7 linked regions of the Homo sapiens genome follow. The protein of the gene in region 1 purifies or fractionates together with the protein of each later gene. This does not show direct contact. Each region holds a gene or a part of one and is shown on either strand. Other genes may lie near its edges.

Region 1 (4,712 bases):
GATTTCTCAGTGTGTCTTTTTCGGGCGCCGGGGAGGAGGTTGGCCGGGGGAGAAAGGAGGGAGAGGTGGTGAGAACAAGCTCCACCCGGACCCACCGACCGCAGTTCAGCTTGCTGCACCATTTCAGGCCCCTTCAAAAGTGTTAGGCAGAGCAGCATCCTCTGGGAAGCCTCTCCTGCCAATCACTCTGTCACTCTCTGAGTAGCCCTGCTCACCCTCCCACTACTGGCCACCAAATGCCCGGTCTTTCTAGGAGTTGGTTCTAATTCTGGTCCCTTAGCCAAGCCTCTTCCGAGCCCCTGTGGAACCCTCTCCTCAAATCCCCAAGGGGTCCGAATAGGAGGAAACCTCACATTGCCTGACCCCATCCCTAATCTTCAGACCCTACTGTCTCTCCTTTCCCTGCCTCCGCCCAGGCTGGAGAAATGGGAGACAGGTTAGGCAAGGAGGGGAGGTGGGGCGCCGGGGTGACTCCTTAGTTCATTAGTTATTCTCTTTTACCTCTCCACTCCACGGGAAGTGACAGGGACATGTGTAATGGGGGGCGGGGAGAGGTCCCCGGGGCCCGCGATGAAGGGCCTGGCCGCTGCAGTCTCCGTGCATAGAGACCCGGGCCGAGTTCTGACTGAGGCCATGGGACCCCCTCCCCCCAGCCCGGAGGCACAGCCAAGCCTGAGAGCGTGAAGGAGAGGCTCCCCGCCCTGGAACTGAGCTGGGGAAGGGGATAACTGGAGAGAGAAAAATGTGGGTGGGGGAGGGAAGGCTTTAAGATCTACTTCTCAAGACTTGGGGTGGGGGGACGGGGCTGGACAGCTAGGCTTATAAGGATGAGGGGAGAGAGGGGACGAGGGCTTTGGAACCTGGCCTCGCTGAGAGGGGAATGAGAAGGGAGGAGTGCGTATAAGATCTAGCTCTCTGGTGGCTAGGGCCAGGTTCCCAGGTTCCCAGCGAGCACCAGCTGGGGCTGCGGGTGAGGTTGGGGCCCATTGTTGCAGCATTCATCGGGGAGACCCTCGGAACCTCACCAGTGGGGAGGAGCCAAGAGGTGTCTTTAACCCCTCTCCCAAATAAGCATCCGAAATAAATCGACACAAAACGTCAACACAAGCACCCTAGCGCGCCACCCCTCTCAGTCCAGTTGGCCACCTCTGAGTCTCCCCATCCTCCACTACAGAACCTTCAAGCCCCAGGTCCCGTGAGAGGCCACGTGGCACGCCGGGATTCTGGGGGTCGTGCCTTGTGACGCCCCGCACCGGCCCGGAGCGGGAGGGCAGAGGCCTTTCCCGCGGGGCACTCCGGGCTACGTGCAGTTCACCTCTAGGCAGGGGGCGCCCTGGCAGCGGAGAGACCACATGCCCGGGGGCGGGCCCTGCGGGGCGCGCTCCTCCCACGAGGGTGTCAGGTTTACGGAACCGAGTTCCCAGGCCGGACGCGCGGTGGCCTGACGGTCGCAAGGATTACATTCGCCTGACCCGGCCCGGCTTGACCCTGCCCGGGCGCGCCATGTTCGCGCGTGGGTCCCGGAGGCGCCGCTCCGGGCGTGCGGTGAGCGGGAGTCAGGGCAGCGGTGGGGGTCGGGGGTAAACTGAGGCCCAGGCAAGGGGGCAATGGATAGGCATAGCGAATAGGTGCCCCACAGAGGATCTGGGAATCCCATCCCCTGCATTCCCAGACCTGGGGCTGGGGCTGCTGGAGGCGAATGGATGGAGGAAGGTGTAGATCTGGTGGCCCAAACCCCCTAATCACCTCTCCACACACTTTCATCAGCACTCCTGGGACCTGGTGGGGACCCCTCTCTTATGAATTGTGGGAGGGAATCCTGAGGGCCAGAGAACTGGGTCTTGAAGCCTTAGGTTGAGCAGGAACCTCCTGAGCTGCTGCTTTTTTTTTTTTTTTTTTTTTTTGAGACTGAATCTCTGTCACCCAGGCTGGAGTGCAGTGGCGCTATCTCCGCTCACTGCAACCTCCGCCTCCTGGGTTCAAGCGATTCTCCTGCTTCAGCCTCCCATGTACCTGGGATTACAGACGCCCGCCACCGCGCCCGCCTAATTTTTGTATTTTTAGTAGAGACAAGGTTTCACCATGTTGGCCAGGCTGGTCTCGAACTCCTGACCTCAGGTGATCCGCCCACCTCGGCCTCCCAAAGTGCTGGGATTATAGGCGTGAGCCACCGAGCCTGGCCGACCTCCTCAGCTTCTAAAGGACACAGTACCTTGGAGGAATGTGCACGGAGGGATGGAGTCCTACACTCCTGGGATGCCGAAATGCTGAGAGTCAAGAGACTGGGATTTGGGGGGACAAGGCTTCCAGGGTTCCGCCTGAGCAAGGGAGTTTTTGACTTCTTAGATAGGAGGTTCTTTCACTTCCTTTGGAGTGGGTCTCTGACCTGGGAATGTGGGGTCTGGGTTTGATGGTCCGGAGAAGGAATAAATAGCCCTAGGATGGGATGGGTAAAGGCCAAGGTTTCTTGGGATGGGGGTTTCTGAATGGAGCAGGGGCCTCCTGAGATCCTGGGGAGGGTCCCCAGTTCCTTGGGTATCAGGGCATGAGGCCAGGGTTTAGGGGAGGAGCTCCTGAGCTTCTGAAGAGAGGGGCAGGGTTCACGTGGGGATCTCAAGGAAGAATGCGGTCTCGTCTCCTACCCTGTGGAACTGGAGTGCTGCTGGCGGCGTAGATGGAGAGGGAACCGGGATGAGGCCGGGGAGAGGATGCCCAGAGTAGGGGTTCTGTGCTCTAGTGGGGAGAGTACAATGAATTATAGGGGAGGTGCTTGAGCCCTGGAAGGATCTAAGGCTGGTGGGAGGTGTCTGAGGCTAGGGGCGGACGGGGAGGGGGGTCCGAGGCCAGCCTAGGAAGGGGAATTCCCTGAAAAGGGGACATATAAGGAGGTGGCTCCAACTGCCCCGCCTCTGCCTCGGTTGTGTCCCGCTCCCCCGCACTCTGGGCGCTGTCCCAGCCTGCCCAGCGCTGCCCAGGTAAGACAGGCCCCAGCGTGCGGTCGCGGGCAATGAAGTGGAGGGGCGGGCGTTGACTTCTCCTTCCCTGCTTCCGCGCCTCACCCGGCCCTGCATCTGCCCCCGCCCACTGCAGCCTCCAGAGGCAGAGGACCCAGACCGGGGCCAGCCCTGCAACTCCTGTAGGGAGCAGTGCCCTGGCTTCCTGCTCCACGGCTGGAGGTAAGTGGCGCCCCTAAAGGGCCTCGCCTTTGTCAGAGCTCCGCCTTCGGGGGGAAATCCAGGAGCCTTACGCCACGCCCCTACGCTTGAGCTCCGCCTACAGAGGGATCTCAGTTGGGAAAAGAGCCTCAGGCTCAGATTCAGAGCCCCGCCCCCTGACTCATTCCCCAAAGTCCTTTCCCAGGAGAGCTCCACCCACTACGCAGCCCCGCCCCCAGAAGTGTTCTCCCGTAGCCGCGGAGTCGCATCCCTAGGGAGATTCTTCGTCTCTAACTCTGAGCGCCGCCCTCTGGCCTCCAGCACCCCTCTTAGACTCAGACCTACTCTCCCAGGCCCAGCGTCCTATCCTCCTGCTGGAGCCCTGCACCCAATAAACAGAGCCTACAGCCCCCAGACTCAGGCCCTACCCACAGGCTCAGAGCCCACAAGTTCAGAGCCTCACCACAGGTTAGATGCCTGTGTCTAGTGAAAGTTCCCCCACAAAGCATCCCACTCCCCACGACCTGTCCTCTGGCTCACAGCCCAGCCACACCCTGGCTCATAGGCCCACCTCCTGCAGCCCTGCCCCCAGGCCCAGATCCCTGTCCCTGCTCACAGACCTTTGGTGGTGATAATCTGTATGTCCCCGCTCCTCCATTGGACCTGGGCTGCCGAGGGGTTCGGGTGGGCAACTCCTTAGTAATTGACCCCCATCCCGGCCCCCTCAGAAAGATCTGCCAGCATTGCAAATGCCCGCGGGAGGAGCATGCAGTGCACGCGGTGCCTGTGGACCTGGAACGCATCATGTGTCGGCTAATCTCGGACTTCCAGCGCCACTCCATCTCCGACGACGACTCAGGCTGTGCATCGGAGGAGTATGCCTGGGTGCCCCCAGGCCTTAAGCCGGAGCAGGTGACCAGAGGCCAGCCCTCCACTCTTGCTGTCCAGTGGGTGCACACTAATGCTCACACACACACACACACACTCAGGTGGGAACCTATTTCTGGGGCTACGCTAGAGTGTGCAGTCAGACCGAGGGTCCTTCTGGCCCCTCTGTGATGGAAGAGTGGTCAGCCCCCCATACCTTGGGTGACTGAGGGACCAGTTCCTCAGGGCCTGTTCACCCCAATCCTATTATTTTTGATTGATTGTTTTTGAGACAGGGTCTCACTCTGTTGCCCACCACAGCCTCCCTTGTAGCTGGGACTGCAGGTGCATGCCACCCTGCCTGGCTATTTTTAAAATTTTTTTGTAGAGACAGGGTCTCCCTATGTTGCCCAGGCTGATGTTGAACTCCTGGGCTCAAGTGATCCTGCCTCGGCCTCCCAAAGTGCTGGGATTACAAGAGCAAGCCACCATGCGTGGCCCCACTCCCTATTCTACCCTCCCAGCACTTCATTCACCACATGACTTCATTGATTGACTCATTCAACACATAGTTATGGGGCACCTACTGCATGTGAGACACTGTTCTAGGCACTGAGGACACAGCAATGAGCAAAACACAAAATAACATATCTGCCCACGGGCACGGTGGCTCACGCCTGTAATCCCAGC
Region 2 (4,282 bases), on another chromosome or scaffold:
CTGAGTAGCTGGGACTACAGGCACCCGCCACCGCGCCCGTCTAATTTTTTGTATTTTTAGTAGAGACGGGGTTTCACCATGTTAGCCAGGATGGTCTTGATCTCCTGACATTGTGATCCGCCCGTCTCGGCCTCCCAAAGTGCTGGGATTACAGGCGTGAGCCATCGTGCCTGGCCCTAGTCATCTTTTTTCTTAATTATTCTAGCTAAGACTTGTCAATTTTGTTGATCTTTTCAAAGAGCCAGCTTTTTGTTTGGTTCTCTCTATTGTTTTTCTATTTTGTATTTTTTTTTTCTTTTTGAGACGGATTCTCACTCTGTCGCCCAGGCTGGAGTGCAGTGGTGTGATCTCAGCTCACTGCAGCCTCCGCCTCCTGGGTTCAAGCGATTCTCCTGCCTCAGCCTCCCAAGTAGCTGGGACTACAGGCATGGACTACCACGCCTGGCTAATTTTTGTATTTTTAGTAGAGATGGGGTTTCACCATGTTGACCAGGCTGGTCTCAAACTCCTGACCTCAAGTGATTTCACCCACCTTGGCCTCCCAAAGTGTTGGTGTTACAGGTGTGAGCCACTGTGCTTGGCCTACTCTGTATTTATTTCTGCTCTAATTATTTTTTGTTTCCTTCTGCTAGTTTTGGGTTTAACTGCTTTTTTTTTTTTTTTTTTTTTTTTGAGATAGAGTCTCGCTCTGTTGCCCAGGCTGGAGTGCAATGGCGTGATCTCAGCTCACTGCAACCTCTTCCTCCTGGGTTTAAGCAATTCTCCTGCCTCAGCCTCCTGAGTAGCTGGGATTATAGGCGTGCACTACCTCGCCCAGCTAATTTTTGTTTTTATTAGAGATGGGTTTTCACCATGTTGGTGAGGCTGGTCTCAAACCCCTGACCTCAAGTGATCCGCTTGCTTCGGCCTCCCAAAGTGCTGGGATTACAGATGTGAGCCACTGCGTCCAGCCTGTTTTTCTTTTCTTTCTTTTTTTTTTTTTTTGGAGACAGGATCACCCAGGCTGGAGTGCAATGGCTCAAACATGACTCACTGCAGCCTCAACTTCCTAGGCTCAAATTGATCCTCCTGCCTCAGCCTCCCGAGTAGCTGGGACCAACAGGCATGCACCACCACGGCTGGCTAATTTTTAATTTTTTTTTTTTTTTGAGACGGAGTCTTGCTCTGTCTCCCAGGCTGGAGTGCAAAGGCGTGATCTCAGCTCACTGCAACCTCTGCCTCCCGTATTCAACAATTCTCCTGCCTCAGCCTCCTGCGTAGCTGGGACTACAGGTGCACGCCACCATGCCTGGCTAATTTTTGTATTTTTAGTAGAGACGGGGCTTTGCCATGTTGGCCAGGCTTGTCATGAACTCCTGACCTGAAGTGATCCACCTGCCTTGGCCTCCTGAAGTGCTGGGATTACAGGCGTGAGCCACCATGCCTGGCCTAACTTTTAAAATTTTTTTAGAGATGGGGGTCTTGCTATGTTGCCCAGGCTGGTCTCAGACTTCTGGGCTCAAGTGATCCTCCTGCCTCAGCCTCCCAAAGTTCTGGGATTATAGGTGTGAGCCACTGTGCTTGGCCTAACAGCTCTTTTTAAAATATCTCTTTAGGGTATACACGGTGCTGTTGTGGTTTGGTATCTTGTTCCTTTGTATTGCGGGATATTTTTTTTCCTTTCTAACGTGGGTATTTGCGGCTGTAACCTCCCTTCTGGCTTCTGCTACACCCCATTCGTTTTGGTTGTCATGAGCCCTCTATTGGGGGTCTCCACTCTCTGGTTATAAACATACTGTGGAGAATGTCCTGTGGCGAGTCTTTGTGCATCTTCCATCATTTCTCTAATTCATCCCGAAGAGTCAAATGAGCGGGTCTCACGGCCGTCATGTTTTATAGCTTCTGCCCCAGGAGGCTGTCTGTGTACTTGTGTCCTGTGGAAGGTGTTCTGTTTTTTTCTACCCTTTTCTACACTTGGCATTTTAAACATGTATTTTTCAGTGTGGTCAGTGAGGATTTGTGCCTCGGTTTGGTCCCTCGGTGTGGGAGTTCTGGGTATGCCTTCTGGGCATTTGCTTTTGGGTCCTGGAGGCACTCTAGGTGGCGTGGGGTTGGGTGCAAGGGTGGAGGGAGACGGCACCTTACTGGGGGTCTGGGTGCCTGGCCTCTGTGACCAGTGTCCTCTGCCCCTGTGCAGCCGGCCCAGGCCTTTGTGGTGAAGCGGGGCGTCCACGTGTCAGGAGCGTCTCCCGAGAGCATCAGCAGCCTGCTCTCGGAAGTGGCCGAGTATGGGACCTGCTACACGCGCCTGAGTCATTTCTCTCTGCAGCCCGTCCTGGACTCTTTGTACAGCAAGGGCCTCGTGTTCCAGGTATGGCCTTTGCCTCATGGTTGTCACACACCTTTGTGAGAACGGTGCACACGACCTGGAAGAGAGAATCTCAGAGGTCCTTCTGCAGGACCAGAGAGTCTAAACCTTTTCTTTCCTTGCTAACATCTGAAACCCGATAGTGGCTCTTGAGGGATGGGTCAGTGAGGATGTTTTACCTCACTAGAAACTTGGGGCAGATGTGTGTGGGCCCTGGGCTGTGTGGGCCCTGGGGTGTGTAGGAGGCAGGTGCAGCCAGCATAAGGGGTGCGCAGGGCAGGAAAGGCGTGAGTGGGGCTCTTGCTGCCTGCTCCCCAGTGGGCCCGGCACATTGTGGATGACTGACAGCGCAGGGCCCTCCTGTTGGGTGAATTTACATTGCTGGGAGTTCTGAGCCAAGTCTGGCTCCGGAAGCTGCTGTTTGGTGAGTCTTGAAGCTGGCTCATGTGCTGGGAAGAGGCCCATGGGACAGGGGCTGCACCTTGAGTGGGAGAGAATAGGCAGGTGGATGATGGGGCATTTGGGTTTGGGGGATTGAGAGGAGGGTGTTGGGGAAGGTGGGCAGAGAGCCCTGGAGGAGCCAGGCAGCGCAGCCTCCTTTGACTGTTGCTGCTGCAGCAGGGGCTGTCGGGTGGGGTGATGTGGTGAGGTGTAGGTTTTAGATGGGCTGTGGAGGTGGGCATGGTGGGAGCTGCACGGGGCGGGGAGAGCTTCTAGGCAGAGGCTCAGCCCCGGGGGACTTGAGAGCTAGAGATGGTGGAGAAGGGGTCAGAGCAGGGGACGCTGAGAAGGGCTGGACTGTGGTTCTTGTTCATCTGGCAGGCATAGCCAGGCGGCTCCTGGGGTGGGTGGACTGAGATTGGTCCAGGGTGCCCCTGTCTTAGTGTGACCTGCAGGGCCTGCTGCTGTGGCGTTGCCCAGGATGCTGGTGCCACTGAGACAGCTGTGGTCGGAGCAGCTGCAGCCCTCACAGCACTAGTGTCTGTGCACAGAGCACGGCCGCCATTTCCCCCCCAGCCCCTTTGCCATGCCCCTGGGGCAGCTGGGCTCAGATGAGAGGAAGGGTTGGTGGTGGGCGCCCCTGGGGCAGCTGGGCTCAGATGAGAGGAAGGGTTGGTGGTGGGCGCCCCTGGGGCAGCTGGGCTCAGATGAGAGGAAGGGTTGGTGGTGGGCCACAGCTTCTGGCTTCTTGTGGATGGGCCGCATTTCCACCTGGCCCGGTGGCGGGGTGTGGCTCACAGAGGCCCATTGCTTGGAAATGGAGCCCAGAGCTGAGGCAAGAAACAAAGCGCTGTTCCCAGCACTGGTGCCCCTCAGGCCCTGGGCACGGCTGCGTCCATGTGCCTGGCCGCCCTCCTCCCAGCCTCTTTGCCCACAGGCCTTCACCAGTGGCCTGAGGAGGTACCTGCAGTATTACCGGGCCTGCGTCCTTTCCACTCCGCCCACCCTGAGCCTCCTCACCATTGGTTTTCTCTTCAAGAAACTTGGCCGGCAGCTCAGGTGAGCCTCAGCATGGCGGCTGAGCAGGGGACTTTGCGGGAGCGGTGTGGGGCTTGCTGGGTGGTGGAGGGTTTGCCCTGCTCCCTGGCAAGGAGGGCCTGTGAGAACAGCCCTCAGCAGGCGACCGGATGGCCCTTGGCCGGCCGAGTTCACCAGGTGCCCGGTGCTGAGCGGGTGTGTCTGCCGTGGGCCCACCACAGCTGGCCCCATCCAGGCCCTCCAGGTCCGGTGGCTCCTGCCTAATTGGCACACAGGGTCCCTGGAGATGTGGCGTCCGGTACACACAAGCTGGTTAGTGAGCAACCAGGCTCGGGGGCTATTGGCAGGTGCCATCAGAGAAGGAAGAGTGAGGAGCTGGGCATTGGGAGCAGTGGGAGAGGCGACCTTCCAGGCTGAGGAGCAGAGTGTGGCAGCGCTGAGGAGACCCAAGGGCTG
Region 3 (4,282 bases), on another chromosome or scaffold:
CTAGAGGGAGCCTAGAGACAGCAAAAGGCCACCGAGTGCTAAGTGAGGAAATCTAAATAACTATGGAGCTTGATTAATACTAGTGTATCATTATTAATTAATTAATTCTAACAAGTGTACCACGGTTATGTAAGACAAAATGGTACTGGGCTTACAGGAACTCTATATTTGCAATTTTTCTGTAAGTCTATCATCATTCTAAAATAAAACATTTTTTTAAAATATATTAATGCCAAGACTCACTTTTCACAAATTCTGATTTTATCAGTCTGGAGTGGGGAGCCATGGCATCAATATTTTTTAAAGCTCCGTTTTCAAACTTTTAGTCTTCAAGATAAGAAAGCAACTAAAATGTGAGGGGGGAAAAAGCTTTCTTTGGTAAACTCAAAAATGAATTTCAACCTATATCACATGCCACATATGAAAATTTGTTGGGAAAAGCTGAGTGTTGGGAGAAGCTGAGGCAGGGCTTGCATGTCTGACTAACGTAAAAGAGTCTTGGAACATGTCCGGGGTCCAGGGTCTAAAATCCCTTGAGGCCTTTGGAACGCCAATCTGTGCTAAAGGGCGGAAGGCTACCCTGACGCACCATAATCTCAGCCCAGGGCATAAAACCCCTCGTGGCTTGGATGGAATCCAGGACTCGTGGCTCTGGAATGTGTCTAGACTTGCTGGCTCCTTGCTCCTTGCTCTCCCAGGATCGATTGTATCTTGAGTTAAAAGAACCTGCTCTCGGCCGGGCGCGGTGGCTCACGCCTGTAATCCCAGCACTTTGGGAGGCCGAGGCGGGCGGATCACGAGGTCAGGAGATCGAGACCATCCTGGCTAACACGGTGAAACCCCGTCTCTACTAAAAATACAAAAAATTAGCCGGGCGTGGTGGTGGGCGCCTGTAATCCCAGCTACTCGGGAGGCTGAGGCAGGAGAATGGCATGAACCCAAGAGGCGGAGCTTGCAGTGAGCCGGGATAGCGCCACTGCAGTCCAGCTTGGGCGAAAGAGTGAGACTCCGTCTCAAAAAAAAAAAAAAAAAAAAAAAAAAAAGAACCTGCTCTCCATTATCTCAAGTAGCAGAGCAGATGCTAAATCATCACACCTGTAAATCATGTGCTTAATGCAACGCGACCTTTCGACCCCCACATTCTCACCACCTGTTTCTTTGTTTGATCACCAATAAATAGTCTGGGCTTCCAGAGCTCAGGGCCTTCACAGCCTCCATACTTAGCGATGGCCCCCTGGACCCACTTTCGCTCTCAAACTGTCTTTTCTCATTCCTTCGACTCCACCAGACTTCGTCACCCCCACGACCTGGTGTTGGGTCTGATCACCCCAGCAAAAATTAAATAGAAGAGTAAAACATAAGCCCCTCTTAGAAATAAAACAAAACAAAGAAATCTTTGCAACTTTGAGTTTGGCAGAGTTCCTACATGACACCAAAATGATGACCCATTTTTTTAGAAATTCATACATTGGCCTTCATCAAGATTAAAAACTTTTGCTCTGCAAAAGACACTGTTAAGAGAATGAAAATACTGAGAAAAAATATGTGCAAAACACAAAGACATAAGCAAAAGTTTTGAACAGATAATTCACCAAGAAGACATATGAATGGCAAACACACACACACACACAAAGATGTTCAACATCACTAGGAAAATTAAAATTAAAACCACACTGAGATATCACAACACACTTGCTAGAATAGCTAAGATTAAAAACCACTAACACTGCTGAGTGCAGGTGGGGCCACGGCATCCCTGGAGCTCTCCCACACTGCTGAGTGACAGTGGGGCCACGGCATCCCTGGAGCTCTCCCACACTGCTGAATGCCCGCGGGGCCACGGCATCCCTGGGGCTCTCGCACACTGCTGAGTGCCAGCGGGGCCACGGCATCCCTGCAGCTCTCCCACACTGCTGAGTGCCCGCGGGGCCACGGCATCCCCGGAGCTCTCGCACACTGCTGAGTGTCAGGGGGCCACGGCATCCCTGGAGCTCTCCCACACTGCTGAGTGCCGGGGGGCCACGGCATCCCTGGAGCTCTCCCACACTGCTGTGTGCGGGTGGAGCCATGGCATCCCTGGAGCTCTCCCACACTGCTGAGTGGGGGTGGAGCCATGGCATCCCTGGAGCTCTCCCACACTGCTGTGTGCGGGTGGAGCCATGGCATCCCTGGAGCTCTCCCACACTGCTGGTGCAGCGGCAAAGCAGCCACAGCCATACTGGAAAAGAGTCTGGCAACTTCTGAAAACAATGAGCATGCACCTGCCCTGAGGCCCAACAACCCCACTTGCAGGTGTTTATTCTAGAAAACTAACTTAAGTTCACATAAAAAACCTGTCCATGAATGTTCATAGCAGCATTATCCATAACTGCCAAAAACGGAAGCACTCCAAATGTCCCTCAGTGGTAAAATGGATAAACTGGTTCATCATACAATGGAACACTACTCTGCAATGAAAAGGTGAACTATTGATATGGCACTGTAAATGCATCTCAAACGCGTTATACTAAGTGAAAGAAACAAGTCTCAAAACTTTTGACTGAACACTGTATGACTGCATTTACGTGAAATTCTAGAAGCGGAGACATACACAGACACAGGATGGTGGCGGCCAGCACAAAGGCAAAATGGTAGCACAGAGGAAATCACTGTGAACCTAAACACTGAGAATTTTTTTAAATGGGCTAAATAGCAGAATGGAGATACTAAAGGACAATTTAAATGCAAGCTAGAAAATCAAACACAACAAAAGAACAGTTAGAAATTATGAAGAAAAAATAGTAAAATTTTTCTATCATTAAAAAAAAGTCAGCCCTGCGTGGTGGCTCACACCTGTAATTGCAACACTTTCAGGGGCTGAGGTGGATCACTTGAGCCCAGGAGTTTGCGACCAGCCTGGACAATACAGCAAGATCCTTCTCAAAAAAAAAATTCTAAGTCTGTCACTAGCTTTGAAAAAAATAATAAATTTTAAAAAAAGGAAAAGTCCTCAGATTGAAGGATCATCAAGTGTTAATCCAGGTAAATTTTTAAGTTCCACACCTAGACACATTATTGCAAAATTTCAGAACATGCAGGATTTTTTAAAATTCTAAAAGCTACCAGACACATCTTCAAAGGAGTAAGAAATGGATTAACATCAGACTTCTCATCAATAATGAAAGAATACCTTCAAAGTGGGCAGAGGAAAAACACTTCAGACCAGAATATCTATATCTGACTGATGATCCAAGAGTTCAGGAATAGAAGCGTAAGAGAAATAAAGACATTTTCAGACTATTAAGTAATTATTTAGATCAGCAAATCCTGTTGATTCTATTTCTAAAAGCATATCCCAAATATGATCACTCCACAGCTACCATCCCATTACAGGAAGTCTCCTGAGGAGCTGCTCACTTGCTTCCACCTTTGCCCCCTTAGAGTGAATTATCCACCCAGCAGTCAAAGTGATCCTCTTAAAATATAAATATTATCATCACTCTGCTCACACACCCATCACACTCACAACAGAACCCAACCTCCTGGCCCCAGCCCAGGGAGCCGGCCCCTTGCTCCCCACATTGCACTCCTGCTATTCCTGGAACACACCAAGCTCACCTCCAGCTCGGCACCCAGCTCTCTCTTCTCCACATCCTCTAAGGACTCACACCCCCCCATCTTTCTGTCCCTATTCTAGCTAAAGCAGACACAAGCGCACTGTGTCAGCAAGGATCCAGTGAATGCCTGCATAGTGGGGAAAGGAACAAAATGAAATCTAAAATGTTTTGTGGGGTCACAGGGTCGGGGTAGTTTTTTTCTCCTTATATTTTTCCACTTTCTGAATTTTTACACTGCGTATATATTAATTTTACAAATATTAAAAGTATCATTGAAAAGTTTCCTTTAAAAGTTGTGTCACTATTTAAGAATTTTTTTTTTCCCAGACAAGGTCTCACTCTGTCGCCCAGGCTGGAGTGCAGTGGTAAGATCTCGGCTCCCTGCAACCTCTGCCTCCTGGGCTCAAGTGATTCCCCCACCTCAGCCTCCCAAGTAGCTGGGACTACAGGTATGTGTCACCACATCCAGCTAATTTTTATATTTTCTGTACAGACAGGGTCTTACCATGTTGCCCAGGCTGGTCTCGAACTCCTGGGATCAAGCAATCCTCCCGCCTTGGCCTCCCAAAGTGCTGGGATTACAGGTGTGAGCCACCGTACCCAGCCAGTAAAAATTATTTTTAGGTTACCATTTTCACACTCAAGTACATCACATAAATATCCCCAATCCAAATGTTTTATATACT
Region 4 (4,282 bases), on another chromosome or scaffold:
ACTCTGTGCCCCATGCTCTGTTCCTAGGCAGGGCATGCAGAAGGAATCGTTACGCTTCAGGAACATTGCTTCAGTATCAGCTCGTTTCCCAAACCTGCTCCCTAATTTTTTGCCAGGTGCCCTTTCCCTATCACCTGGTCCTCTGTCTCTGGACTCCTTATTCCTGTTGTTTGGTTTCTTTGTGTTGTTCCCTGGCTTCTTTGCCAACTCCCTATGCACTAATTCAACCAGCCTACCACCAGCCACACCTTCCTTCAAGGGTGGGCTGCACATAGACCCACCTGGACTCATTGAGGCTCCCCCTGGCCTGGTACATCTTTATCACCTGCCAAATTCTGGCTCTGATCTTCCCAGACATGCTCTGGTATCCCATCATGACACTACTCAAGACCCAGTGCCACTAATAAGGGGCAAGGAACATTTGCAGCAGGCCACCTGTGTTCTAGGGAAACTTGGATGACCTTTTAAAGTGGGGAAAGGAGAAAGCACAGGACATAAGCAGGGTCAGCAGCACGGCTAGAGGAGAGACAAGGAAGAATGATGCCTTACACTCAGCATGAATCCTGGATTAGACTGAATGTATCTGAGGACACTACTACATTCCCAGCATCACAGGGTGACACCTGTGCCGCAGTCTCTGCAGGGCCACGTGCTAGCGGAAAGGCAATAAACCTTAGGAGATTTCTCTAAGGGAATCCTAGCACTGAAGACTTCCACTCGGGGATCATTTCCCAACCCCTTTAGAGGAACTGCAAAAACTTCTTATATTCTGTTTCTCTTCCTGCTGACTCCACAACACTACTCCTGAAACCATACCTGTGACAAGACAAATACAAGGCAAATTCCAAGATGACTAACTGCAGAAACCCATCCAACATTTCCTTCTGTTGTGCTGGAATATATCTGTAGGGAATGCGTCTGCCTCTCTGCTGAGGTTTGCAAACCATTTGGTCAAATGACAATTGTAGGTTCTACCCATACCTAGATCAGGGCTTCTCCAACCTTTGTGTGTACTGCAATCACCCGGAGTCTTGTAAAGCAAAGATTTTGACTCAGTTTTCATCTGGGCTATGGTGGGGCCCAAGATTTTGCATTTCTAACAAGCTATGTCAATGCTGCTGATCTGTGGCTCACGCTGAGGAGCACAGACAACACCCAATACAAGTCTACAAGAGCGCCCACCCCAAATCTCATGATGTGCGGAGTCACTCAGCATGAAGGCTTACAGGAGATTCTTGTATTCATTCATAAGACATTTTAATCAGTGAGACCAGTTTAGTCAAAGTGTCATCAACCCCAGCGTGTATTAAACTTACCCAGAACTCTTGCAGCTCTGTTAGATGGCTGATATTTTCAATCTTTTTGATTCTATTTGATGCAATGTCCAACATCGTGAGTTTGTTCTAAAAGAAGGAAATAAAATGTTTCCTGGATTACCTCTGATCAACAGTGATTTGCATGACCACGCAGGCAGTGTCAAGTGCTGACCTTAGGGCTGCAGGTGCACTGCCCTCTCTGCCCTCACAGGGTAAGGGCATGCTATGGAGGGTGACGAGACCTGCTTGCTTCCTGCAGCCCTCCCTGGGACAGTGTTTCCATCAGAGCCTGCCCAGCTATCTCCCTGAGCTCTCCTGATCGCTGGAATTTGAGACTGTGTCAGACTCCAAGCCCAGTCCTCCCAGATCCCTGTCCATTGAGACAGACCTAGTGAGACTGATGGTCCCAGGAAGAACCGAGTAACCCCCTGACGCTCTGAAGAAAGGCTGACAATTGTAGAAACATTTACTTAGTGCTCATCACGAGGAAATGTACGACCAAGTAATCTTCAAAACAAAGTTCCTCTCTTCATTTAGGGATGAGGAACTTGGGGCTCAGTGGGGCTAAGAATCTGCCCAGGCGCACAGTAGCAGTGGGAGAGGCAGGACTCTCAGACCCCAGGCCTACACTCTTGTCTGGGAAAAGGGTCCCGGGAGCATAAGTGCAGAGAAGGGACCCATGCTGAGGACTGGGTGCTGGGCCTGCTGAGCACCTGCTGCAGGGTGTGTGCCCCCACTGGGAGACAAGAGTGTGTTTTTAGGATCTTCTACTCTGAAAATGCACATCAGTTACTCACTTTCCAATACATGTTAGCTAAGCCTGAGTAATAATTTTGTTTCTCATCAAAAGGAAAACATTTACAAGCTGTCTGAGAACCTCTGACAAAGTTCATTCCCTTCTCTGCCCTCACGCTCTGCTCCCTCCTGAGTCCCTTCCTTGGTTTTCTACTGCATTTTTGGTATTCCAATTCCAAAGCCTTCTAAGTTTTAAGGGAAAGTTAAAAAATTTCTCAAAAGCAAATACTCCTCCCCCCATCTCCCCTGAAATGTACCCAGCCAGTAGCTTTCCCAATTCGAAAGCGCTATGGCTGTGGCCTGGGAGCTCCTCTGGCTGTACCACCCTTGCTGCCTTGGCGCCCAGCACCCCAGCTGGCACCAGCTGCGTGTGTCAAGTCTGACGCCACTCTCCAGCAGGCTATACGTGGCATGCTGCCTAGGAGGTGCCTTCAAACCACCCCATCTCGGTGCCCTGGTCAGGTCTGCTCACAGAGTATCAGGCTCAACAGTGTGCGAGGGAGCTCAGTGGGGCGGGTTCAGAGCAAAAAGGACTGCAGGAAAATGTTGCAGAAGACGCGACTGTGGGTAATCCAACGACACACCGCCTGGCGGTGGGGCTGGAACAGGCCTCTCTAGCACGGACGGCAGCTCTCCCCCGCACTCTGCACCATTCTGAGATGCTCATGGTCATCTGGTATGCAAGCCCAGAAACTGGCAAAATGAAAGTGGCCTGGAACACACGCAGGATTTGAGCCTCGTGAGGTCCAAGCACCAAGGCTCAGCACGAGGGGCAGAGCCGGTGGTGGGCTCTGGCTGTCAGAACCGGTCCATCACCTCTGAGCTCAGGGATCCATGTAGGCACTCAACACTATTTCACGTTTTTCTACAGGAGCTGGACAATGTTGTGAAAACTCATCCAAAAGCAAACTAGTAAGAACTGCTTAAGAAACAGAAAAAAAGAATGGAACAGGGTGAGGAGAGCAGGCACACCAAAGGGCATGACACAACGCCACAGAAACTACACCTGTCAGGGACCACTGCAAACATATTCTAGACCAACGGGAGAGCCCAGAGCTGGAGAAGACACGAAGAACAAGACAGGAGTCGTGAGACACTGGGATGGGGGGTGTCGTCTAAGTTCCCACCTGGGACAAAACTACATTTACTTTCTTATTTCCCACCATAAAAATAAATTCCAGATAAATTAAGAAACAAAACTTAGGAGAAAATATTTGTCTGATCTTTAGTTGAAAAAAATGGCAGAAGAAAGACTGTCACATTTGATCATGATGAAGATTACAATAACGTAATTACCTTTAATACAACAATTTTTTTTTTTCTGTTTTGTTTCAGAGGCCCAAGAATAATCTGGTGTTTAACCAAGATCACAGTGTAGCACTTCTACTGGTAAAATTCTGAACCACACTTCTTTCCAGTTTTCCTGGGACTGGCTGCTTATGTGAACTGTGCTGCAGATTGTCTGTCTCCCGGTGGATGCTTGGTGGTGACTGCAGGGCCTTGGCTCAGGGAGGCCAGGGTGCAGGAGGGCACCAGGGCTCCCTGCTGCGCACCCCACCCGGCCCCAACCCCAGCCCCTGCCACACAGTCCTCAGCGCCATTCCACTGCAGGCACGTCTCGACTTACCACTCTAAACTACACAGGTGAACACTTGGTTTGCATGCTAGTTTTATAAACTTTTAATTTCAATGCAAAGTCAAAGGAAGGTGACCAAACTTTCCACAGGCAAATTTGAATTTTTCCAAAATTTTATGCAGGTGTTGGTGAAATTTACTGCTGCCAACTAGGCCCTGGGGTTGAGGCACAAAGGCCTTTAATGAGATTGAAACACTATGTTTATAGACCAATCTGGTTGTATTTGCTGGCAATTTAACAAAACAGAAAAAAACAAGTAAAATTGAATGAGAAAAAGTCTTTTATTTGTCTTGAACACCGCACTGGGGCAGAGCAGGGTGAGCTGGAGGCAGCTGAGGAGGGTGGGGGCTCTGTGAGCACACTTCCCCTCAGTACGTGAGGCTGTCCTGCACCTGAGTGAGAAGGGCCGGGGAGGGAGGGAGGAGCATGAACAGGTGAGGACAGGTGTGGAAAGCAGGCAGGGAGGAATGGGGGAGGAGGAAGCTGCTCATACTGTAAGAAGAGGAAGGGGCTGGGACTGAGAGCTGGTCCTGTG
Region 5 (4,282 bases), on another chromosome or scaffold:
CCATGATTCAACAGTCTCAAAAATCTTACAAATAAAATTCTGAGAAGCTTTATTATTCTATAAATTCTTCAGGGTACAAAGGGTGACATATTGAGGTGAAATTGTCAGATTTACTTAGCCTGGTGACATGAATTAGCTGATTGTGGAACTCTCAGCAGCATTTCACGTATTGTTAACATGTATGGCATTTATTAGCATATTGTATATTATATAAGATTGAGGGATGTCATATTTTCAGCTTTCTTTTAAATAAAAATTGAGTATATTTTCCTATTTTATATCAGGTAACTAAATTATGCTAGTTATGTGGAAAAAATTGCAAAGATGCTTTGACAGATATAATCCCTTTGGTGCTCCATCTGATCAAAGTTGAAAAGTTGATGTTTTTTAAGAGACAAGCTTTATCATTGTCTCTGATTTCAGTAGAATAATGGTTTATTGTTAGACAATGATGTTTCTGCTTGGATAAATCAAAGATAAATTACAGTTACATGGTTAGATGCATCTTTTGTCATCTATATTGTAGTTTCTACATAACTGTAAACCTGACAGATAAGAATAGTTTCGGTTTGATTTTTGTTTAAAACAGATGAGTACTTCTTAATGTTCTAGACAAATGAGTAAAATGTATTTCTGGTAGAAATTAGTTGGGCAAAGATACTATGAATGAAAAAGTATTTTAAACGTAAAATGTTCTTTGTGAATATGTAAGTATAGTATAAAGATTTCTTTCATCCCATTTATCCCCTTCCTTTAAATAAACTAGTTTACAATTGGTAGATCTGTCTATATATAAATATATATTAAAGAACAAAGATATATATCTAAAAATCACCTAAATCTGCTTTATTAGACTACAGTTCACTTATTGCATAGAAACTGGACTTGGCTTTACATTCTTAATGTACTTTTACTTTTCCTCAAGATATGAACTTACTCTCTTGAAGCTGAATTTTCTTTTACTACTTAAATCATTTATGTATATCTGGTAAATTATGACCAAATTTTTGTTAGATTGCATACAGTAAATTGAAATACACACTTGGTACACTACGGGATTGTTGTGCTTTTGTTTGGTTTTAGTTGGAAATAAGGTTTGATGTAGATGGCTTGTTACTGTTAATTTAAAATATTCTATAATTGTCCATTACTTTATGTTGTGTTGTGACAGATTTGGCTATATTTTTAGTCAATTGAAATATGATACTTTAAAAGTTTGTTTTTAGGTAATCCAAAGGAAAAGTGTTTATACTCTTGAATATATTAGCCTCAGCCTATATAAAAATTTCTTTGAAGTAAACATTTTACCGGAAACAGAATTGACAGATTTTTCTACTTGCTGACTGCCTAACTTATTTTGTTTCATGATCTCGAGGGACTGCCTTTTCCCATCTAGATCTTTTAAAAAAATAGTTTTAGTACTAAGGTATACTACTGGACATTTCTATTTTTTTAAGTGTATTCTTTTTCTGACTTACAGTAAAATTTCAGGAAGTTGATAGATACTAAGAACTTATGATTGGTCTCAGAGGTAACAATGAAATACTCATAATTTTGTCTGTGGAACTCTGGCAGAATTATGTTACACATTTGGCGAAGTTGTCTCTTGTAATTTATATTTTAAATGAAAAAGTATTTTAGAGCTTTTAATGAAGGGGAAGAGTATAAACTTTCTTTCATATTCACTCTGTAGTTACAGACCGTCTCATAAATCAAGATTGTGCATTATTAGAGTTCTCAGAGACAGATACTTCCATATGGACCCCTGTTCATTTTTCTTATTTACTAGATATTTTGCTAAATTTAGCACACTAGCAATTAAGAGTTTAAAAAAGAAGAAACGTTATAGGAAAGGGAAACTGAACAGTAATGAGTAGCTTTGAAATTGGGGAAAACACACTAGCTGGGTTAGGTACAGCTATCCTAATGGAGAAGAGTGAGCTAAATGCGTTAATTCATGTAAAGTGCTTAGAACACTGGTACATAATAGGTGCATAACACATCTTAAAGTTGTTTAATAATAGATAAGAACCAAGAGGAAAAAGAAATAAGAAAAGATGGGGGAAAGGAAGGAGAAAATAGGAAATGAAAGGATTAGGACTTGGGCATTTATATTAATACAAAATGGTGTAAACGGCCTGAATATCACTGTAGTAGTATCATACGGGGGAAAGTGTGATGGAAAATAGGTTTAAAAATCTTAATTTTTAAAACTTTAGTAAGCTTTATTTATATTTTTTAGGATTTTCTGAACATAGCATGAAGGGTTTAGATTCATTTTTCTGAAAAACGATTAAAAAAACTACCAATTTTTTTTTTGAGTGCCCACACTTGCCGTTGTGCTGTATACATGATTTTACCTTAATCCTCTATAAGGTAGGTGCTAATTGTCTCCATTTTATAGATGAGGAAAGGCTCAGAGAAATTCAGAAACTTGGCTAATTTAACACAGCTGTGACAGAGCTCGAATTTGACCACGTCTGATTCTGAAGCCCATACTCTTTCAGGGAGGCTCTATTGCTGCCTCATTAAACAACTCTTGTAGAATTTCAGCTCTTAATGGAGTCTATGGATTATATTTTTCCTATAAGACAGCTGTGTTTAGAATTTTGAGTGTCTTTCCTCCCCCCAATAAATTTCCTTACTACTCTTTCTTCATAAAGCAGTTGTTTTGTCACTTTGACTATATTAAGACACATCAGTGTAGCACATGCTCTTAACTGGCTGTGGCATTTTAATTTTATAAAAGAATGGTTTTTATCTGAAGAACTAGATAGAAACCCCAGTTTTTGTGCCGTTCAGTCACCCAGATCCTTAAACTTAACTATGGTACATAATATCCACACTTAGAACTAACAGGTGTTTAGTCACTTTAGGACTTAAAATGGAAAGTTTTTTTTTTTTTCCTGCTGTATCTCTGCTTTCAACTGAAGTTAAAGAATTCTAGATAGTTTAAAATGTGTTAGGGATAAGCACACTTCAAAAGATGTTTTCTAGCCCTAAATTTTATGACATTGGGTACTTAAATTTGGAGTACACTAGCTATTGAGAACAATATTTTGGGTTGAGGAGAGATGGTTGAGGCCATTATTTAGTGGGAGCATTGGCATTTTGAACACTGTAAACAAAAGAACACTTCCGCCTGCTGTTTGTAAAAGCTCTTTGGGAAGATCTTTTACGAAGACCAACTTTTTAAAATGTAAATTACCTACCTAATATAAGTGTCCTAAGACATGTATGTAAACTTCCGGAACTGTTTTGTCTGTGTATTTAGAAAATACACAAGAATCTTTATTCAAACCTAAAAATATAAACTTGTGAGCACTAAACTGCTTCTGGCTTTGTGAATTTTATTGACTGACATTTAATTCAGATTTCTTTGCAAGTGTACTAATTTAGACTAATTGGGGTAAGGGGAACACCTTAATGAACTTTGACTTATGTATAATTCAGATATCTTTGTACTTAAGGCTTACAAGTTTGAATTATGGAATACTATAAGGGTTTTTTGTTTATTTGTATGTTTTTATATGAAAGTACATAAATGACAGACTACCTCCAAGTAATCCTGCTTTAATTAATAGCAGTGATTTGTAATCAGTGTATCTTTTAAGATTCTCTACAGGTTTTAGAAAATATTAAAAATTCCCTGTAATTTACATTTGTGCATAATCTTGGAAATGGGTTGAAAAGCAAAGGTAAACTGCTTCATCCCATGTTGTATATTTGTGGACTGATTGACTACAAGTGATGTGATGTTATAAATTTGAAGTCTTTGAAACTTTATTAATGTAGAGAAAACATAACTAGCTTTTTAGGTTATTTCAAAGTTAGTAATAGAGCAAAGGAAATCAGAACTGGCCAGATATTCAGACTTGACTTAGAAAAACAGGAGTTTGTTGATTTTGTTTGGAGAAGGGCACAATAAAGGGGAGCCCACATAGCATTATAATGCCTAGTATCTTTAAACATGTAAAGAGCTATCATGAGGCAGAAGAATTAAGAAACTTTATATGTTTCTAAGGGGTCATGATTGGGACCATTGGCTCAAGATTGAAAATCGGTTTTTAATTATCCAAAGATGAAATGGGGCTGCTTCAGAAAAAGGTCTACCACTGGAGATAACGCTATGAAAAGTGAAAGAGATTACTTAATCATTTTGACAAAGGCAGTATTGACCAGACATTTCTATTTCAGAGTTGGATTTGTGCTTAGTTTTTTTTAGGTGTTGGGACCCTTGTAGTTGCTTTTTATTTTGCTTAGTCAACAAACACTAAAATGA
Region 6 (4,282 bases), on another chromosome or scaffold:
CAAGAAGTGCTTTGAGTCATTTCACAGTAACCCTGTCAGATAGATGTGATTAATTATCCACTTTTTACAGAGGAGAAACTGAGGCTCAGAGAGGTTATGTCACTGGACTAAAGTTACGCAGCTGGAAAGTGCGAGGCGGTCTGAGTCCAGAGCCCTTCTTTCTACCATGACATTTACTGGGGGCAATATCTGGAAGTACCAGGTTGGTGTCCAGTGGAGCCAGGCAATTCATTGGTAGGCCAGGGCCAGTCCAGGTGGAGAGGTGTGTGAGGGGTGTGTGTGTGTGTGCCTGGTGAGGCAAGGGTGGCTTTGTGGACTGAATATTACTATAGTGCTGAGGGGTAGGGGTAGATAAGTACTGACTAGGAGCTCTCAGAGAAGGATTAGCCTTGGCCTTCTCCTTCCTGGCCAGGGTCCCCCAGAAGTGGGGAAACACCAGACTCCCTGCTCCCATTGGCTTTTAGGGAAGATGGGCTGGCTCTGGACACATCCCGAGGCCACAGTGGGGACTGGGCTAAGGAGGCCCTGTGGGCAGGGAGCTGAGCCTTGGTGGATGGGTGGGGGTGGAGCAGGCTGGCACTGCTTCCTTTGTGGGCTAGAGGCTTGTGGATCAGAATAGTAACAGCTAACATTTATTGAGCATTTATTATGTGCCAGGCCCAGTTTTAAGGGCTTCCATGTACAACTCATACGTTCTTCACAAAGCCCTGTGAGGTGTAGATGAGGTATAGGAGTTATTCTTCCCGTTTTACAGATTGATGGAGCTGTGGCTTAGATAGTTGTTCAAGGTCAAATAGCTAGGCTGTGGGGGAGTCAGGATTCAAACCTAGGCAGTGTGGGTCAGAGCCATGTTCCTGAAGGCCATGCCAGGCAGCCTGTAGTTTCTCAGAGGCCATACTCTGTTTTGTTCAAGTTGAAATAGTCACTCAGTCAGATGCATCCCTCTCCTCAAAGGCCTCCCAGTCTAGCTGGGAGAGATGCAGACATGACACACTAAAAGTAAAGAGTGTGCTATTGCATAGGCTCAGCATGGATTCCTATTTTGGTGCTCAGGGAAGGCTTCAAGAAGACGGGGACCTTTGAGCTGGGCACTGAAGGCCAAGTCGGATTTCGATGGTTGAAGGGGGAAGGGCACCCACTTCCCCAGGTCAGAGGGGAAGGAAATAGGAATGCCTCTGAAGAAGAGTGGGCGGTCTGATGTGCGTGGAACAGATAGTGTGTGTGGCGGAGTGTGAGCTGGGAGGTGACTCAGAAAGTCACCTAGTGTTTGGGTTTTTGATGGAGCTCTGGAATCCACCAGACGTAGGCTATAGTCACAGCAATGCATTGTATTAGCCACGTGGCCTTGGGCACATCACTCAGCTGGCCCAAACCTCAGTTTCCTCATTCGTAAAATGCAGATAAACATGCCTGTCTCACAGGGACCATGTTGTGGTTGTTATATAAAGCACCTAGTGTAATGCTAACACATTGCAGGAACTCAGTAAACATTACTTCTCTCCCGCTTCTGTCTCTCTTAAATGTCAGGCCAAGGTGTTTCGACTTGACGTGAGCCGGGATGCTCTAGGAATCTTTGCAGGATTTTAGTCTGCTGAGGAGCATGACAGAACTGTGTTTTGGGAAGGTCCTTTTGGCAACCGTATGATCCACAGGAGAGGGTGGACGTGATCTTACAGGAGAAACCTTAACTGTGGGGACTTGGAGGGCTGGGGAGGGATCAAGATTGGCACTCATTAAGGTGTCCCTCTGGTAGTGGGTGGTTCGCCAGGTTGGAGAAGGAGGAGCTTGGAGTGGGTAAGGCCACAGGGTCAGGAATTCTGTTTCAGGCCTGGTGAGTTTGAGAAGGGCTGGTCTCCCTTTAGTCATCTGGAAGATTGGGTAGCATCTTTTTTGCACATCTGGCCTGTTTTTCCTTTGAATTATTTCTTTTGAATAAATCCCCATCAGAGCTTCCTCTATAATAGCAGTAAATTGGGACTAAGTGTCCAACAATAGGAAGATGATTGGGAAAGCTTTGGAACATCCACTGGATAAAATAATACGCAGTGGTGAACACCCACAGAAAAACTGCTTGCAGTGGATGGAGCTGTGCAATTGCAAAGCTCTTTTGCATCCTTGATTCATTTTGTGCTTATGACTGCTCTGCGACAGAGGTGGGGCCGGGGCTAGATCCTTTCTGTGTTTGAAGAGAATGACGCTAGACTCCAGTCTCCTTGAAGGCAGAGTTGAGTTCACATTTTATTCATTGTTTCGTCGCAGCATGTTGCTCAGTGGTTTGCAAATACTTGTCCGATGAAAGAATGAGTGAACTAATCAAGAGGGGAAGTGACTTGATCAAGGTCACTCAAGTTGTAAGACATAGTGCCTGCCATATTCTTGCTATTCCCTACTTGCCACATTCTTCTCACTAACCACTCACTATCTTCGAGGGGAATAGGACAGAGAGGTTCCCAGTGAGGACCTGGCACTTGCATAGAACAGGGTTTAAGTCTTCTTTCTGTTTTTACTAGCTGTGAGGCAATTGGCAAGTTAATTAATCTTTCAAAGCCCCAGTTTGCCCAGCTGTAATGTGGATAGTCCAAGTACCTGGTTTTAGGGTTGTCATCAAGATTGAATAAGTTAAGGCATGTAAACATCTTGGCATGGTAACTAGTACATAGTGAAGTATCCATGAACATTAGTGGAGATGATGATGATGTCATGATGTGATGTCATTAATGGTCTGATACAATTAATGTTAAATGGGAAAGAAGACCCATAAGATTATCAGTATTCATATTACAATGGTATAAAATTAGGTATGAACATAGATACAGATTGGAAGAAAACAGGTAGAAAATGGAGTTCCAGCAAGCATATGGGAAGTGAATAAAACAGAAAAACAAATATTTCTTTACTGTTATATTTACTTTTCTTTAGTTTTAATTACAAAAAAAATTTGTGGAAAATCTAATAATTCAGAAGTGTAGGCCAGGCACGGTGGCTCATGCCTATAATCCCAGCACTCTGGGAGGCTGAGGCGGGTAGATCACCTGAGGTCAGGAGTTCAAGACCAGCCTGGCCAACATGGTGAAACCCCATTTCTACTAAAAATACAAAAAGTTAGCCGGGCATGGTGGCTGGCGCCTGTAATCCCAGCTACTCAGGAGGCTGAGGCAAGAGAATCTCTTGCACCCGGAAGGCAGAGGTTGTGGGGCAGTGAGCCGAGATTGCGCCATTGCACTCCAGCCTGGGTGACAGAGCGAGACTCCGTCACAAAAAAAAAAAAGAAAGAAAGAAAGAAAAAAAGTGTATTCTCCCCTTAGATCCCCAAACAAATCCTACTCTCCAGTCGTAGCTAATAACAGCATGTTGTGTATCCTTCCAGGATATTTTCTATACCAACATAAACATACAAACCAGAATGGGATCATACATTGCATTATTGTTTTACAACTTGCATTTTTCATGTAACTACACATTGACATCTTTTTATGTCAGTAGATATAAAATCTATCTCAAAAATTTTTGCAATAGGTATGTTATACTTTCATAATTAAATTTTTAATGGATAAACCCTACTAATTTGGCCAGCCCCCCTGTTGATTGACATTTGAAGTTGTTTCCAATTTTACGGTATTCTAAGTAACGCTAACTGAACTCTAACAGTATTTAGACAATTAGTGAAAATCAAGTGAGAGAAGGAGTCAGAAACCATGAGACCGTGAGAGTTGCCCTCAAAGGTCTGCTGCTTCTCCCTTCTCCTGTTCCCTCCTCTCCTCACTGGAGCCTGGGGGAACTGGTCTTGGAGGAGGCCATCTCTCTGTCACCCTCAAAAGGTGGTGATGTCCCAGGGAAAGACCCTTTCTTTCACCCACCCAGTATGGAGCTCTCCTAGGAAATTTTCAAATTCTCTTAGGATGCTCTAAGCTGCTGCTTGGGCTGTGCAGCTGCCCACACCCAGACTGTCCTTGGACAAGCTTTCTACCTTCTCTGTACCTCAGTTTGTCCATCTGTCTGGTGGTGATCAGAGCCATTGCTGCCACTGAGTGTCTTCTATATGTCAAATACTGTGCTAGAGCAAGCTTCATGTGCATTATCTGTTTTTCTATTTTTTCTTTTTATTTTATTCTTCTTATTTTTTTGTTTGTTTGTTTTTTGGGTTTTTTTGTTTTGTTTTTGAGATGGAGTCTTGCTGTGTTGCCCAGGCTGGAGTGCAGTGGCAGGATCTCAGCTCACTGCAACCTCCGCCTCCCCGGTTCAAGCAATTCTCCTGCCTTGGCCTCCCAAGTAGCTGGGATTA
Region 7 (4,282 bases), on another chromosome or scaffold:
GTCTGTCCCTAAGGAGCTCATAGTTTAGGGGAAGAGATATAGAAAAGTAAACAGTTACATTACAGTGTGCTAAGGGCTCTGAAAAGACTAAATATGGGTATTCTTGGAACATGGTCATGGGATAGGGTCTTGGAGTGACTAGGGAAGGCTTTTCAGTGGAAGGTATGTCTAAATTGCAAAGAGTTTGGGAGGAGCCATCAAGAGACATCCAGGCAGAAGGAATGATATGTGTAAAGGTACAGGGGCCATTAAGGACATGGTTCATTTGGGGAAACAGTAGTAATTCAATTGAAATGATCAAATAAAGGCTGAAGTAAAATGTTACAAGAGATGGTGTGAGGGAGAGGTGGTACTTGAAACTGTGTAAGTTGGTACTTGATGAAACTTGAGTTAAGCAGAGGCAAGATCACAAAGGTGCATGTAAACAGTGGAAATGAGTTTGTACTTGAACCTGAAAAGAGTTGGGGGCTATTGAATTTTAAGCAAGTGGGTACCACAGTCAGACTTCATGATAAATCACTCTGGATGCTGTGTGGGGAATCATTTTTTAAAAATCAAGATTAGAGGCAGGTCGATCAGTTAAGAGAGTGTTGGGGAGACTTAGGTGAAAATAATAGTCCCCTAAACCAAAGATACTAACATTGAATATGAAAAAAGAGCAAAGAGGTGTGAGAGATGTTTAGAGGGTGGAATCAGTAGGCTTAGTGAGTGCTTGGAAATGAGTCAAGAGGGAAGAATCATTGATGATACCCAGGTTTCTGCCTTCAGCAGCTGGGCAAGTAGTGACGATAGGGGTGTATACTGCTGGTATGCGGGGAAGAAGATGGGTCTAATGGGGGGCATGTTGAGTTTGAGGAACTTGTGGGAAATGTTCAGTGGGCTGAGCCTGGGGCTCATGAGAGCACTCCAGCTTACTTTAAATCTACATATGGAATCATCAGCATGGGGCTTGGAGGTTTTTAATCTGGGGCCCTTGGGTGGCTTCAGGAGGTTCATGAAATGTTATATGTCTGTACATTTGTCTGGAAGATCCATAGCTTTTATGATTGCAGAGAGGTCTGTGACCTAAAAATTAAAACTATCTGTTACACTGATCAGTCACAGAAGACGATGTGATTGTATAGGAAGTGTAGGCTGAGAGGAAAAGACAGTCTGGGACAGTGCCCTGAGGAGCACCAGCAGAGAAGACATAGAGAGAAGACCTGGAAAACAAAAAAGACCACCTCTTTCATCGTACAAGTAAGGAAGCTGGTCGACTGTGCAAGTTTTTACTCAGTAGTAAAGGCAGAGTGAGGGCCCAAATCCCAGTATTTAAGCCACTCTTATTTCCACCATGCCACTCTGCTGCCTGAAGATGAAATACATCTCTCCAAAATGGGTGGTTTGAGAACTGTGCAACACCAGATTTGAAGTCCCTGCGTCTTTATTTTAAATCATGGGTTGGGAGAGTTACTAGGTATTTTCTTGTTTTCCTTTTCTTGCTTCACACTGCATCTCGATGTGTACTCTTTCCTTGACTAGCGCCTGATTGAGGAAGAGAACATGCTGGCACCATCTCTGAAGCAGTTTTCCCTACGAGTGGAGATTTTGCCATCCTACATTCCAGTGAGGGTTGCTGAAAAAATCCTATTTGTTGGAGAATCTGTCCAGATGTTTGAGAATCAAAATGTGAACCTGACTAGAAAAGGTAGAAATCTCCTTGTCCAATGTACCACACCCTCAAAATCTCTTCTTCCTTAATACTATGTGGCCCCACAGCATGCCTGGTCAGAGCGAGTGGTCGATAATATTCCTATCCTGAGATTGTAGCAGAATCATGACGTTTGTCTGAGAAGCAGGTGAAGTTGCTGCCCCACTGAGATTAGCCCTCCCCAGAAAACCCTAACTGTCCTGGGTATTCTCCGTCCTCCTTTGACGGTGTCTTCCTATTTTGCAGGATCCATTTTGAAAAACCAGGAAGACACTTTTGCTGCAGAGCTGCACCGTCTCAAGCAGCAGCCACTCTTCAGCTTGGTGGACTTTGAACAGGTGGTGGATCGCATTCGCAGCACTGTGGCTGAGGTTTGTGTTTCATCGTATATATATATATATATATATATATATATATATTTTTTTTTTTTTTTTTTTTTTTCTTAGGCAAAATTGGACTAGTTTCCTAGAAATTGAGTTACTTGGTCGGGCGCAGTGGCTCACGCATGCAGTCTCAACACTTTGGGAGGCCAAGGCAAGTGGATCATCTGAGGTCAGGAGTTCAAGACCAGCCCGGCCAACATGGTGAAACCCCGTCTCTACTGAAAATACAAAAATTAGTCGGGTGTGGTGGCATGCACCTGTAGTCCCAGCTACTTACGAGGCTGAGGCAGGAGAATCGCTTGAACCCGGGAGGCGGAGGTTGCAGTCAGCCGAGATCACACCATTGCACTCCAACCTGGGCAACAGAGCAAGACTCTGTCTCCAAAAAAAAAAAAAAAAAAAAAAAAGACACTGAGTTACTTGACTTTTGTTTTTATCTTGATGTCTTGATGAGTTAAGAACCGAGCTTGGAAAGAAATGTTGCAGAGAGTTGAAGGCAGAAAGTAGAAAAGAAAAGCCTCTGTTTTCATTAACAGAGGCAGAACTGCCTTCCCATTTTCCTATCTAACTAAAAGACAGGTGGTTTTTAGTTGGTTAGTTAGTTGAATAAAGGGGGGATCTTGGTTTAAATTCTGAAAATCAGCATTTTGGATCTGTCTCTATCGTTTGCAATAACTCCTAGGAATCAACTAATTCTGACTAAATTTTGTGTCTTGTAGTTTAGTATGGCTCATAACTTATACTTTCATTTCTATACACAATCATCTTATGAGGAAAGCAGAACAAATATTATTTTCTCATTCTTATAAATGAAGCAAACACTCAGCAAGCTGACTTGTCTGGCTTGCCTGGTGTGGCACAGTGAGTAGCCATAGTGAGGTCAGTGCCAGGCCTCCGACTCCTGGTGCACAGTCTTCTTCATTTTGAATTGTGCTGGTGCCACCGACTTAAATTGTGACCAGTAATTTTTCAAAGGAGCATATATGTTCTGTGGCTTATATTAACATTTGTCTCATGGATATGTGATAACACGAAATGAGACATTTAGTCAGCTGTGTTGTTAACTATATTCCTGGCTTTCAACATTGGCTAAGCATAGAATCGCATGAGAAAATTTTATTTTTTATTTTTTATCTTTTTATGGAGTCTTGCTGTGTCACCCAGGTTGGAGTGCAATGGTGTGATCTCGGCTCACTGCAACCTCTGCCTCCTGGGTTCAAGCGATTCTCCCGCCTCAGCCTCCCAAGTAGCTGGGATTACAGGCACACATCACCATGCCCAGCTAATTTTTGTATTTTTAGTAGAGATGGGGTTTCACCATGTTGGCCAGGCTGGTCTCAAACTCGTGAGCTCAAGTGATCCTCCCACCTCAGCCTCCCAAAGTCCTGGGATTATAGATGTGAGCCACTGCGCCTGGCCCGCATGAGGAAATTTTAAAACCTGCACTTGCACCAAGTCCTTACTTCCAGAGCTTCTGATTCATAGGTCAGGAGAGGGTAGGTACCTTTATTTTATTTTATTTTTGAGACAGGGTCTTGCTTTGTCACCCAGGCTGAAGTGCAGTGGAGCAGTCGCGGCTCACTACAAACTCCGCCTCCCGGGTTGAAGCAATTCACGTGCCTCAGCCTCCTGAGTAGCTGGGACTGCAGGCCTGCACCAGCATGCCTGGCAAACTTTTTTGTATTTTAATAGAGATGGGGGTTTCACCATGTTGGCCAGGCTGGTCTTGAACGTTTGGGCTCAAGTGATCCTCCTGCCTTGGCCTCCCAAAGTGCTAAGATTACAGGTGTGAGCCACCACGCCCGGCAGGTACTTCTATTTAAGCAAGCCAGTCCACCCACCAAAGACAAACCTCTACAGGGGTTTTTGAAACAGACAGGACTAAAAAGCAGTGCACTTCGTTCAGTGTCTGGAACTGCTAAGAGCATCAAATCTCCATGGGTTAGAAGCACAGTAATCTATTATAAATATGGTTTCCCTTTCTAGTCACTGTCTCAAAAACTCCTGGTCATCAGAGGTAGAGCTGTGATATAGACACAGAATGTTCGATCTTAAAATGGCTGTGAAGTATCATTTGATTTGAATCTTTCTGGGCAAGTAAATATCTAAATGACCCATGTTCCTGTCCTTTCAAAATTTTAAGACATTGCTTCAACCCCGTCTATAGGCCAAGGCAGTTTCTAGTCTAGAGGGGTTGGTATCAGTTCCT

The links.
Region 2: the proteins of PRICKLE3 (region 1) and TUBGCP6 purify together in Homo sapiens (affinity purification with mass spectrometry; 2 studies listed by BioGRID and IntAct, with this or other methods). This does not show direct contact.
Region 3: the proteins of PRICKLE3 (region 1) and TUBGCP3 purify together in Homo sapiens (affinity purification with mass spectrometry; 2 studies listed by BioGRID and IntAct, with this or other methods). This does not show direct contact.
Region 4: the proteins of PRICKLE3 (region 1) and PPP1R7 purify together in Homo sapiens (affinity purification with mass spectrometry; 2 studies listed by BioGRID and IntAct, with this or other methods). This does not show direct contact.
Region 5: the proteins of PRICKLE3 (region 1) and ZBTB10 purify together in Homo sapiens (affinity purification with mass spectrometry; 2 studies listed by BioGRID and IntAct, with this or other methods). This does not show direct contact.
Region 6: the proteins of PRICKLE3 (region 1) and EPB41L1 purify together in Homo sapiens (affinity purification with mass spectrometry; 2 studies listed by BioGRID and IntAct, with this or other methods). This does not show direct contact.
Region 7: the proteins of PRICKLE3 (region 1) and TUBGCP4 purify together in Homo sapiens (affinity purification with mass spectrometry; 2 studies listed by BioGRID and IntAct, with this or other methods). This does not show direct contact.

What each region holds. Positions count from the first base shown.
Region 1 is NC_000023.11:49,183,089-49,187,800, reverse strand, and holds the start of PRICKLE3 (prickle planar cell polarity protein 3), read left to right. Parts: upstream 1-1,427; 5' UTR 1,428-1,503; coding exon 1,504-1,545; intron 1,546-2,907; exon of another isoform or gene 2,908-2,975; intron 2,976-3,090; coding exon 3,091-3,176; intron 3,177-3,883; coding exon 3,884-4,067; intron 4,068-4,712. UniProt on the Homo sapiens protein: Involved in the planar cell polarity (PCP) pathway that is essential for the polarization of epithelial cells during morphogenetic processes, including gastrulation and neurulation.
Region 2 is NC_000022.11:50,227,472-50,231,753, reverse strand, and holds part of TUBGCP6 (gamma-tubulin complex component 6), read left to right. Parts: intron 1-2,176; coding exon 2,177-2,350; intron 2,351-3,725; coding exon 3,726-3,847; intron 3,848-4,282. UniProt on the Homo sapiens protein: Component of the gamma-tubulin ring complex (gTuRC) which mediates microtubule nucleation.
Region 3 is NC_000013.11:112,577,544-112,581,825, forward strand, and holds part of TUBGCP3 (gamma-tubulin complex component 3), read right to left. Parts: intron 1-4,282. UniProt on the Homo sapiens protein: Component of the gamma-tubulin ring complex (gTuRC) which mediates microtubule nucleation.
Region 4 is NC_000002.12:241,166,902-241,171,183, reverse strand, and holds part of PPP1R7 (protein phosphatase 1 regulatory subunit 7), read right to left. Parts: intron 4,140-4,282; coding exon of another isoform or gene 4,116-4,139; exon of another isoform or gene 4,010-4,115; intron 3,509-4,009; exon of another isoform or gene 3,447-3,508; intron 1,404-3,446; coding exon 1,317-1,403; intron 1-1,316. UniProt on the Homo sapiens protein: Regulatory subunit of protein phosphatase 1.
Region 5 is NC_000008.11:80,520,726-80,525,007, forward strand, and holds part of ZBTB10 (zinc finger and BTB domain-containing protein 10), read left to right. Parts: 3' UTR 1-4,282. UniProt on the Homo sapiens protein: May be involved in transcriptional regulation.
Region 6 is NC_000020.11:36,157,334-36,161,615, forward strand, and holds part of EPB41L1 (band 4.1-like protein 1), read left to right. Parts: intron 1-4,282. UniProt on the Homo sapiens protein: May function to confer stability and plasticity to neuronal membrane via multiple interactions, including the spectrin-actin-based cytoskeleton, integral membrane channels and membrane-associated guanylate kinases.
Region 7 is NC_000015.10:43,384,270-43,388,551, forward strand, and holds part of TUBGCP4 (gamma-tubulin complex component 4), read left to right. Parts: intron 1-1,521; coding exon 1,522-1,687; intron 1,688-1,936; coding exon 1,937-2,061; intron 2,062-4,282. UniProt on the Homo sapiens protein: Component of the gamma-tubulin ring complex (gTuRC) which mediates microtubule nucleation.